2 linked regions of the Homo sapiens genome follow. The protein of the gene in region 1 interacts with the protein of each later gene in a pairwise test. Each region holds a gene or a part of one and is shown on either strand. Other genes may lie near its edges. The genes, in order: ACAP1 and IFFO1.

What was found.
Region 2: the proteins of ACAP1 (region 1) and IFFO1 interact in a two-hybrid assay, tested with the Homo sapiens proteins (one large-scale study listed by BioGRID and IntAct).

The regions. Positions count from the first base shown.
Region 1 is NC_000017.11:7,334,855-7,339,462, forward strand, and holds the start of ACAP1 (arf-GAP with coiled-coil, ANK repeat and PH domain-containing protein 1), read left to right. Parts: upstream 1-1,674; 5' UTR 1,675-1,880; coding exon 1,881-1,933; intron 1,934-2,408; exon of another isoform or gene 2,409-2,457; coding exon 2,458-2,515; intron 2,516-4,608. UniProt on the Homo sapiens protein: GTPase-activating protein (GAP) for ADP ribosylation factor 6 (ARF6) required for clathrin-dependent export of proteins from recycling endosomes to trans-Golgi network and cell surface.
Region 2 is NC_000012.12:6,542,466-6,546,275, forward strand, and holds part of IFFO1 (non-homologous end joining factor IFFO1), read right to left. Parts: intron 1-3,810. UniProt on the Homo sapiens protein: Nuclear matrix protein involved in the immobilization of broken DNA ends and the suppression of chromosome translocation during DNA double-strand breaks (DSBs).

The sequences.
Region 1 (4,608 bases):
CCTGATGGGTACCCGAGCCCTGATCCCTGATTCTAGGCTCCACAAGCTTGACCTAGGTGATTGAGAACCCCGTAAGCACTGAAGTCCACCTACTGGACCACATGGGAGGCCCCTTTAGGGATCACAAGGCCACGGAGAGCTCCCTGATGGCAACAATGACAACATTGCAGCCTGTTGAGGGCACCAGGCCACCATCTCCCTGGGGCTGTCTCTTGGCAAGCTCCCATCTCCCAGCCCTCCAATTCTTTCAGGCCAGTACATCAGCAACAGGTGGAAGGAGAGGCCCTGAACAGCCTCAAGTCCAAGGTCCACATTGGACAGGCGAGGAACCAGGGAGACTCAGAGGCGGTTGGGACCCCCTCCAGCTTGGCACCACACACTGGCTCCATGCCTCCTCCTTCACTCCTCTGCCACACCACCCCACTCCAGGTATTTCTCTGTCCTCCAAAGACAGTGAGTCTCAAGTGGTGTCCAGCTGGTGGCTGGGGGGCTGAGCTGGCAAAGCCCAAGGAGTTCAGAGAGGGAGAGTGGAAGCAACCCCAACTCCTCAAGCCAGAACAAGCACAGCCTGGCACACTGAGCCTGGGCAGAGGCAAGGGGATGCATACACTGGCCAGGGAGGTAGAGGAGCTGAGTGGGGAGGTTCTAGGGGATCCAGAGTCACATGGACAAGATCTCATGCCTGCTACGAGAAAGCCATGAACTCAAACTCTTCTCTCCAGATGAAACCCTGGGACTTCAATGGACTCAAGAAAAGGAAAGCAAACAATGGAAAATGGGGCTGGTTGGGGGCGGAGTGGGGGCAACCTTCCCTTCATGACCACCCTATGAATAGAAATAAAGAGCAGAAGAGCAAGAGTCTGGGAGCTGTGAATCGGGTGCTCAGGCTGGGCCTGCTCAGTCGTTGAGGAGAGGGGAGGAGGAAGGGGAGTTCACACACAGGAACCATGAATATGACGGCAAAACGAAGAAAGCTGGGAGCAGTCCGGGGTACTGGACTCCACAGGAGCAGGCCCAAGCTGTAGCAGGATGACAATGACTGATGCAATTAATATAGTGAACCAGCTGGGCACAGTGGCTCACGCCTGTAATCCTAGCACTTTGGGAGGCCGAGGTGGGTGGATCACCTGAGGTCAGGAGGTCGAGACAAGTCTGACCAACAAGGTGAAACCCCGTCCCTACTGAAAATACAAAAAGTTAGCCGGGCATGATGGCAGGAGCCTGTAGTCCCAGCTACTCGGGAGGCTGAGACAGGAGAATTGCTTGAACCCAGGAGGCGGAGGTTGTAGTGAGCCGACATCGCGCCACTGCACTGCAGCCTGGGCGATGGAGGGAGACTCCGTCTCATAAATAAATAAATTTAGTGAACCATGAATTTACTGCTATCACCTTCTTCACTTCGTACAGCCCTGGAGGAAGGGGTTATCATTCCCATCTTCCAGATGAGAAAACTGAGGAATCAGAGAGCTCGTCCAGGGGCACATAACCTCTAAGTGACAGAGCCAGGATTTGAACCTAGATCTGCCAGGCCCCCAAGATAACCACGAAGAGAGAAAGAAACAGAGGCTAGAGCCCCAGGAGGAAGGAGCTGGCAGATCGTCTCTGAGGGTGGGGCTGTGGCTTCTCTGATCTCAGGCCCCCATCCTCCGCCCAGGCCCCGCCCCTGCCCCTCCCAGCACTGCCTGGAAGTGTGGGGTGAGAGCTCCTCCTAGGACACCCCTTTCCCCTTGGGGAAAGAATTGTGCCCCCAGGCCCTTCCCCGCGGAGGTCCCTCTCCTCCTTCCCCCTCATCTCCCCTTCCTGGGACAGAAAGTGCCTCCACCTGCATCCCCAGGGGCCCGGCCTCCAGGGCCCGCTGGCCCCACAGCAGGCAAGCTGAGATGACGGTCAAGCTGGATTTCGAGGAGTGTCTCAAGGACTCACCCCGTTTCCGGTAAGTGTGAACTGGTCTGGGGGGCTAAGGAGGGGAAAGTCTAACACCCCCAGCACACACACACCTTTCCCCAGGCCAGGTCTCCTTCCAGGGAGCAGGCCTCTAAGAGGCAGGAGCGAGCCTGTGGGCCAAAGTGGTACCCCAGCTGTGAAAGCAGGGTACTCCAATGCTCTCTGCCCCTGCATGCTCCTCCTGGCCTCTGCAGTTTCCCTCACCCCTAGAGCTGGCATTCCCTCTGGCCTCTCAGTGGGACCCCTGCCCCTCCCCCAGCACCTGCTCTGGGGCGGTTAGCAACTTCCTGCCCTGGCCACATCCACCCTCCTTCTACCCTTCCTGCTCTGGCCTGGGCTGTGGTAGCTCCCAGACTGCAGAGCGGGCAGAGCACAAGTAGGTGGGTGGGGGGCGAGCCTCTCAACTCTGCAGCTTTCTCCTCCGTACCCACCGCCCTGCGACTCCATCCCGCCTGATGAGGCAGACAGACCAGATGGACCCAAGCTCTCTTCCCATGACCCCCTCTTTCCCAGAGCCTCTATTGAGCTGGTGGAAGCCGAAGTGTCAGAATTGGAGACCCGTCTGGAAAAGGTGACCCTGACATGGAGAGGTGACCCAGGAGTGGATTAGGTTGAGAGGGGTAGGGCCAGGGAGAAAGCTGGAGACACAGAATGCATCCCAGGGATTATTGAATACTGTGTAGGGGAGATATTTTGGAGACTGCAGAGAAGCAAAAAAGGTGGTTCTGTACCGACAAGAAGCTCAGGATCTTGGAAAACAAGACTTACTTTTGGGCCAGGCATGGTAGCTCATGCCTGTAATCCCAGCACTTTGGGAGGCCAAGGTGAATGGATCACCTGAGGTCAGGAGTTCTAGACCAGCCTGGCTAACATGGCGAAACCCCATCTCTACTAAAAATGCAAAAATCATCCAGGCTTAGTGGCACCCATCTGTAGCTCCAGCTACTCAAGAGGCTGAGGCAGAGGAATCACTTGAACCTGGGAGGCGGAGGTTGCAGTGAGCCAAGATCGCACCACTGCACTCCAGGCTAGGCGACAGAGCGAGACTCTGTGTCAAAAAAAAAAAGACTTAATTTTGGACTTCCTTGTTCTGCTCTTGAGCTCCTGCATTGTGCCAGGCCCTGGGCATTCAGGGAGGACAAGATCATTTCTGCTCCCACGGAGCCCAAAGGCTGACTAGAAGACAAACCAGTGAAACGTTTCAATTCAAGACAGTAAGGTGTCCCCTGAGCACTCTATCAAACAGCATGTTCACACAAATACACACTCAAATGCTCTCTCATTCCCCTTACTTCGCTTTACTTTTCTCTGCAACATTTACCTCTGACACATTATGTATTTGCTTGCTATATATTAGTTCTCTATTGCTGTGTAACAAATTGTCACAAATTTAGTGGGCAACATTGTTTTATGGGCAACATGGTGAGACCTCATCTCTACAAATAATAATTTTATTTTTATTTTTATTTATTTGAGATGGAGTCTCGCTCTGTCACCCAGGCTGGAGTGCAGTGGTGCGATCTCGGCTTACTGGAACCTCCACCTCCCAGGTTCAAGTGATTCTCCTACCTCAGCCTCCCAAGTAGCTGGGATTACAGGTGTGCACCACCACACCTGGATAATTTTTTTTCTTTTTGTATTTTTAGTAAAGACAGGGTCTCACCATGTTGGCTAAGCTGGTCTTGAACTCCTGACCTCAAATGATCTACCTGCCGCAGCCTCCCAAAGTGCTGGCATTACAGGCTTAAGCCACCGCACCCGGCCTACAAATAATAATTTTAAACAATGGACTGGATGGAGTGGCCACAGCTGTGATCCCAGATGCTTCAATACTGGGCTCAAGTGATCCTCCCTCCTCAACCTCCCCAGTAGCTGTGCTACAGGCACATGCCACCACGCCTGGCTTTTTTAAATTTAAATTTATTTTTTGTAGAGATGGGGTCTCCCTATGTTACCTAGGCTGGTCTGGAACTCCTGGCCTCAAGTAATCCTCCCACCTCAGCCTCCCAAAGTGCTGGAATTACAGGTGTGAGCCACCACACCTGGCCTGAATTTTTTATTTTGAGTAAATTATTGACTCAGGAGACTAGTGAGGAGAGGTCTCATGTACCCATCACCCAGCTTCCCCCAGTGGTGACATCTTATACAATACTAGTACATTATTAAAACCAGGACATTAATAGTGTCACATTACAATTAACAATAAACTCGGCCAGGTGTGGTGGCTCACGCCTGTAATCCCAGCACTTTGGGAGGCCAAGGTGGGCGGATCACGAGGTCAGGAGATCGAAACCATCCTGGCTAACACTGTGAAACCCCGTCTCTACTAAAAATACAAAAAATTATTCGGGTGTGGCGGCAGGCGCCTGTAGTCCCAGCTACTCAGGAGGCTGAGGCAGGAGAATGGCGCGAACCCGGGAGGTGGAGCTTGCAGTGAGTGGAGGTCGTGCCACTGCACTCCAGCCTGGGCGACAGAGTGAGACTGTCTCAATAAACAAAAACAAACAAACAAAAAACCCCAATAAACTCTAGCCAAGCTCAGTGGCTCACGCCTGTAATCCCAGCACTTTGGTAGGCTGCGGCAGGTGGATCACGAGGTCAGGACTTCGAGAACAGCCTGACCAACATGATGAAACCCCCATCTCTACTAAAAATACAAAAATT
Region 2 (3,810 bases), on another chromosome or scaffold:
GGGGAAGCAAAATGAAACTTCCTGGAGATGACGTTCGTGACTGCCTGAGTGAAGAGAACGGGGAGGATACCAGCTGCCATAATGTGGATTGGACAGAGAGGGTGGGAACTTAGAGAAAGAAGGAAACAGGTTACAGGGCCAGACAGCAGAGATGGTCAGGACAGTGACATTTGGGGTGAGATGGCGGCTGGCTGGGTGAGAAGCCCTAGTGGGGACAGCTTCCCTGGCAGGCTTGGATCCACAGCTGGGGCCCCACAGTAGTGGGAGGAGCAGGACACGGTGACTGTTCAACCCAGGGGGAAAATACAGTGCCACCAGCCCTTGTTCAGATCAGCTGCCTACACCCCAATTTCTCCACCTTGGAAGAACCGGAGTGCAGGGAGCTGGGTTCTGGAACCATCACTCAGGGAGACTGGGAAGAAGGAAATGAACCAAATATATTCTACTGAAATACAAGGCTAGTACTGCCACCAGTAGTCTCTGCATATGTCTATGTCCCCACTTAATTCACAAATTTACAGCAGGAACAAGGTCAGGAGGTGAACGTGCATGTCAGGAGATGTCCTTGACAAGCCACCTTGAAAACTGCAGGCTCGCTGTGTGAACAGACTTGGGGGTGGGACGGGAGGAGACAGAGAGAGGTGAGGAGCGGTGGGGAAGAACTGCCTCCCGCCCACCACTCTGGGCCTTGGCTTTACCTTGCTCCATCTTAGTGACCCTGAGAGATCAAAGGTCACAAAGATAAAGGCACCTTGGGTACTCCTGAGGTCAGCAAGTCCTCCTAACGGTTCCCCTAATGCAGAAGTCCCCAAACCCCAGGCCACGGACCAGTACCTGTCTGTGGCCTGTTAGGAACCAGGCCAAATAGCAGGAGGTGAGCAGTGGGCAAGTGAGTGAAGCTTCATCTGTATTTACAGCTGCTCCCCATCACTGGCATTACAGCCTGAGCTCCACCTCCTGTCAGATCCGCGGCGGCATTAGATTCTCACAGGATCCTGAACCCTACCTTACGTGAACTGTGCATGCGAGGGATCTAGGCTGTGTGCTCCTTATGAGAATCTAATGCCTGATGATCTGTCACTATCTCCCATCACCCCCAGATGGGACCGTCTAGTTGCGGAAAACAAGTTCATGGCTCCCACTGATTCTACATTATGGTGAGATGTATAATTATTTCATTATATATTATAATGTAATAATAATAGAAATAAAGTGCACAGGCCGGGTGCGGTGGCTCATGCCTGTAATCCCAGCACTTTGGGAGGCCGAGGTGGTGGATCACCTGAGGTCGGGAGTTCGAGACCAGCTTGACCAACATGGAGAAACCCCATCTCTACTAAAAATACAAAATTAGCCAGGCGTGGTGGCACATGCCCGTAATCCCAGCTACTTGGGAGGCTGAGGCAGGAGAATTGCTTGAGCCCGGGAGGCGGAGGCTGCAGTGAGCCAAGATTGCGCCATTGCACTCCAGCCTGGGCAACAAGAGCAAAACTCTGTCTCTAAAAATAATAATAATAATTTTTAAAAATAGTAATAAAGTACACAATAAATGTAATGTTTGAATCATCTCAAAATCATTTCCCCCGGGTCAGTGGAAAAACTGTCTTCCACAAACCAGTCCCTGGTACCAAAAAGGTTGGGGACTGCTGCCTAAAGTCATTGCACTGGGAGAGAGGAGGAGTCAGATGATTTGAAAATACTTTTTTTTTTTTTTTTCCTGAGATGGAATCTTGCTCTGTCACCCAGGCTGTGGTGCAGTGGCACAATCTCAGCTCACTGCAGCCTCCACCTCCCAGATTCCAGCAATTCTCCTGCCTCAGCCTCCCAAGTAGCTGGGATTACAGGTGCCCACCACAATGCCTGGCTACTTTTTGTATTTTTAGTAGAGACGGGGTTTCACATGTTGGTGGCCAGGCTGGTCTCACACTCCTGACCTCAAGTGATCTGCCCGCGTTGGCCTCCCAAAGTGCTGGGATTACAGGCGAGAGCCACCACGCCCAGCCAAAAATAGCTTAAAAGGCATGATTCCATTTAAGATATTATTTTCGTTCTTTCAGATCATGTTTTACACTGGGCACTTGAGGTCCAGGGAAGACTAGGGAGAGATGGCAGCCCGAGATCTCTTCTCACGAAGATGGCCGCACAAAGGCCCCTAGTTGGTTGAAGGCACAGTGAAAACACAAACCTTAAATCCACCATCCAAAAGAGGGAGACAAGAATCAGGTCAGGCAGGAGGAGGAAACAGTGAGCCGCGGTAGACGGGAGGGTGGGGAGTACTGGTTTCCCTTGCCATGTCTTTAGCTAGCAGCACAAATCCAGGAAACCTCATCTACCTGGCCAAGAAAACCAGGTTTGATGCAGGAGCAGGACAGTTTGATGTGTGTTGGGAGAATGAGTATATAGGAAAATAATTTCTCGACTTCCTTCTCAAACACCTCCAATGTGACAGCAATAAGAATAAAGTCAAGGCCGGGCGCGGTGGCTCACGCCTGTAATCCCAGCACTTTGGAAGGCCGAGGCGGGTGGATCACGAGGTCAGGAGATCGAGACCATCCTGGCTAACATGGTGAAACCCCGTCTCTACTAAAAAATACAAAAAATTAGCCGGGCGTAGTGGCAGGCGCCTGTAGTCCCAGCTACTCTGGAGGCTGAGGCAGGAGAATGGCGTGAACCTGGGAGGTGGAGCTTGCAGTGAGCTGAGATCGCGCCACTGCACTCCAGCCTGGGCGACACAGCGAGACTACGTCTCAAAAAAATAAATAAATAAATAAATAAATGAAAAGAATAAAGTCACTCTCTCCTTATCCACTGGTTTCACTTTCCACGGCTTCAGGTACCCAAGGTGAACCTTGATCTGAAAATATTAAATGAAATATTCCAGAAATAAACAATTCCTAAGTTTTAAATTGCACGCTGTTCTGAGTGGCCTGATAAAATCTCACTCTCTCTGCCGGGCGCGGTGGCTCACGCCTATAATCCCAGCACTTTGGGAGGCCGAGGTGGGCGGATCATGAGGTCAGGAGATCGAGATCATCCTGGCTAACACGGTGAAACCCCATCTCTACTAAAAAATACAAAAGAAATTAGCCGGGCGTGATGGCGGGCGCCTGTAGTCCCAGCTACTCAGGAGGCTGAGGCAGGAGAATGGCGTGAACCCAGGAGGTGGAGCTTGCAGTGAGCCGAGTTCAAGCCACTGCACTCCAGCCTGGGTGACACAGCGAGACTCCGTCTCGGAAAAAAAAAAAAAAACCTCACTCTATCCAGACCAGGACATGAACCCTCCCTCTGTCCCAAGGATCCACACTGTCTATACTGCCTGCCCATTAGTTACTTAGGAGCCATCTCAGTGATGAGATTGACTGTCGTGGTATGGCAGTGCCCGTGTTCAAGGAACCCTTATTTTTACTTCATAATGGCCCCAAAGCACAAGAGTAGTGATGCTGGCAATTTGGATATGTGAAAGAGAAGCCAAAATATGCTCCCTTTAAGTGAAAAGGTAAAAGTTTTCAACTTAATAAGAAAAAGAATCCGATGCTGAGGTTGGTAAGCTCTACAGTAAGAATGAATCTTCTATCCGTGAAATTGTAAAGAAGGAAAAAGAAATTTGTGCCAGTTTTGCTGTCACACCTCGAACTGCAAAAGGTACCGCCACAGCGCACGCTAAGTGCTTAGTTAAGATAGAAAAGGCATTGAATGTGTGGGTGGGAGACATGAACAGAAACACGTTCCAGTTGACAGCAACTGGACCCAAGCTATCAGGAGGTCAGTGCTATCTTTGGTTTCAGGCATCCACTGTGGGTCTTGGAACAC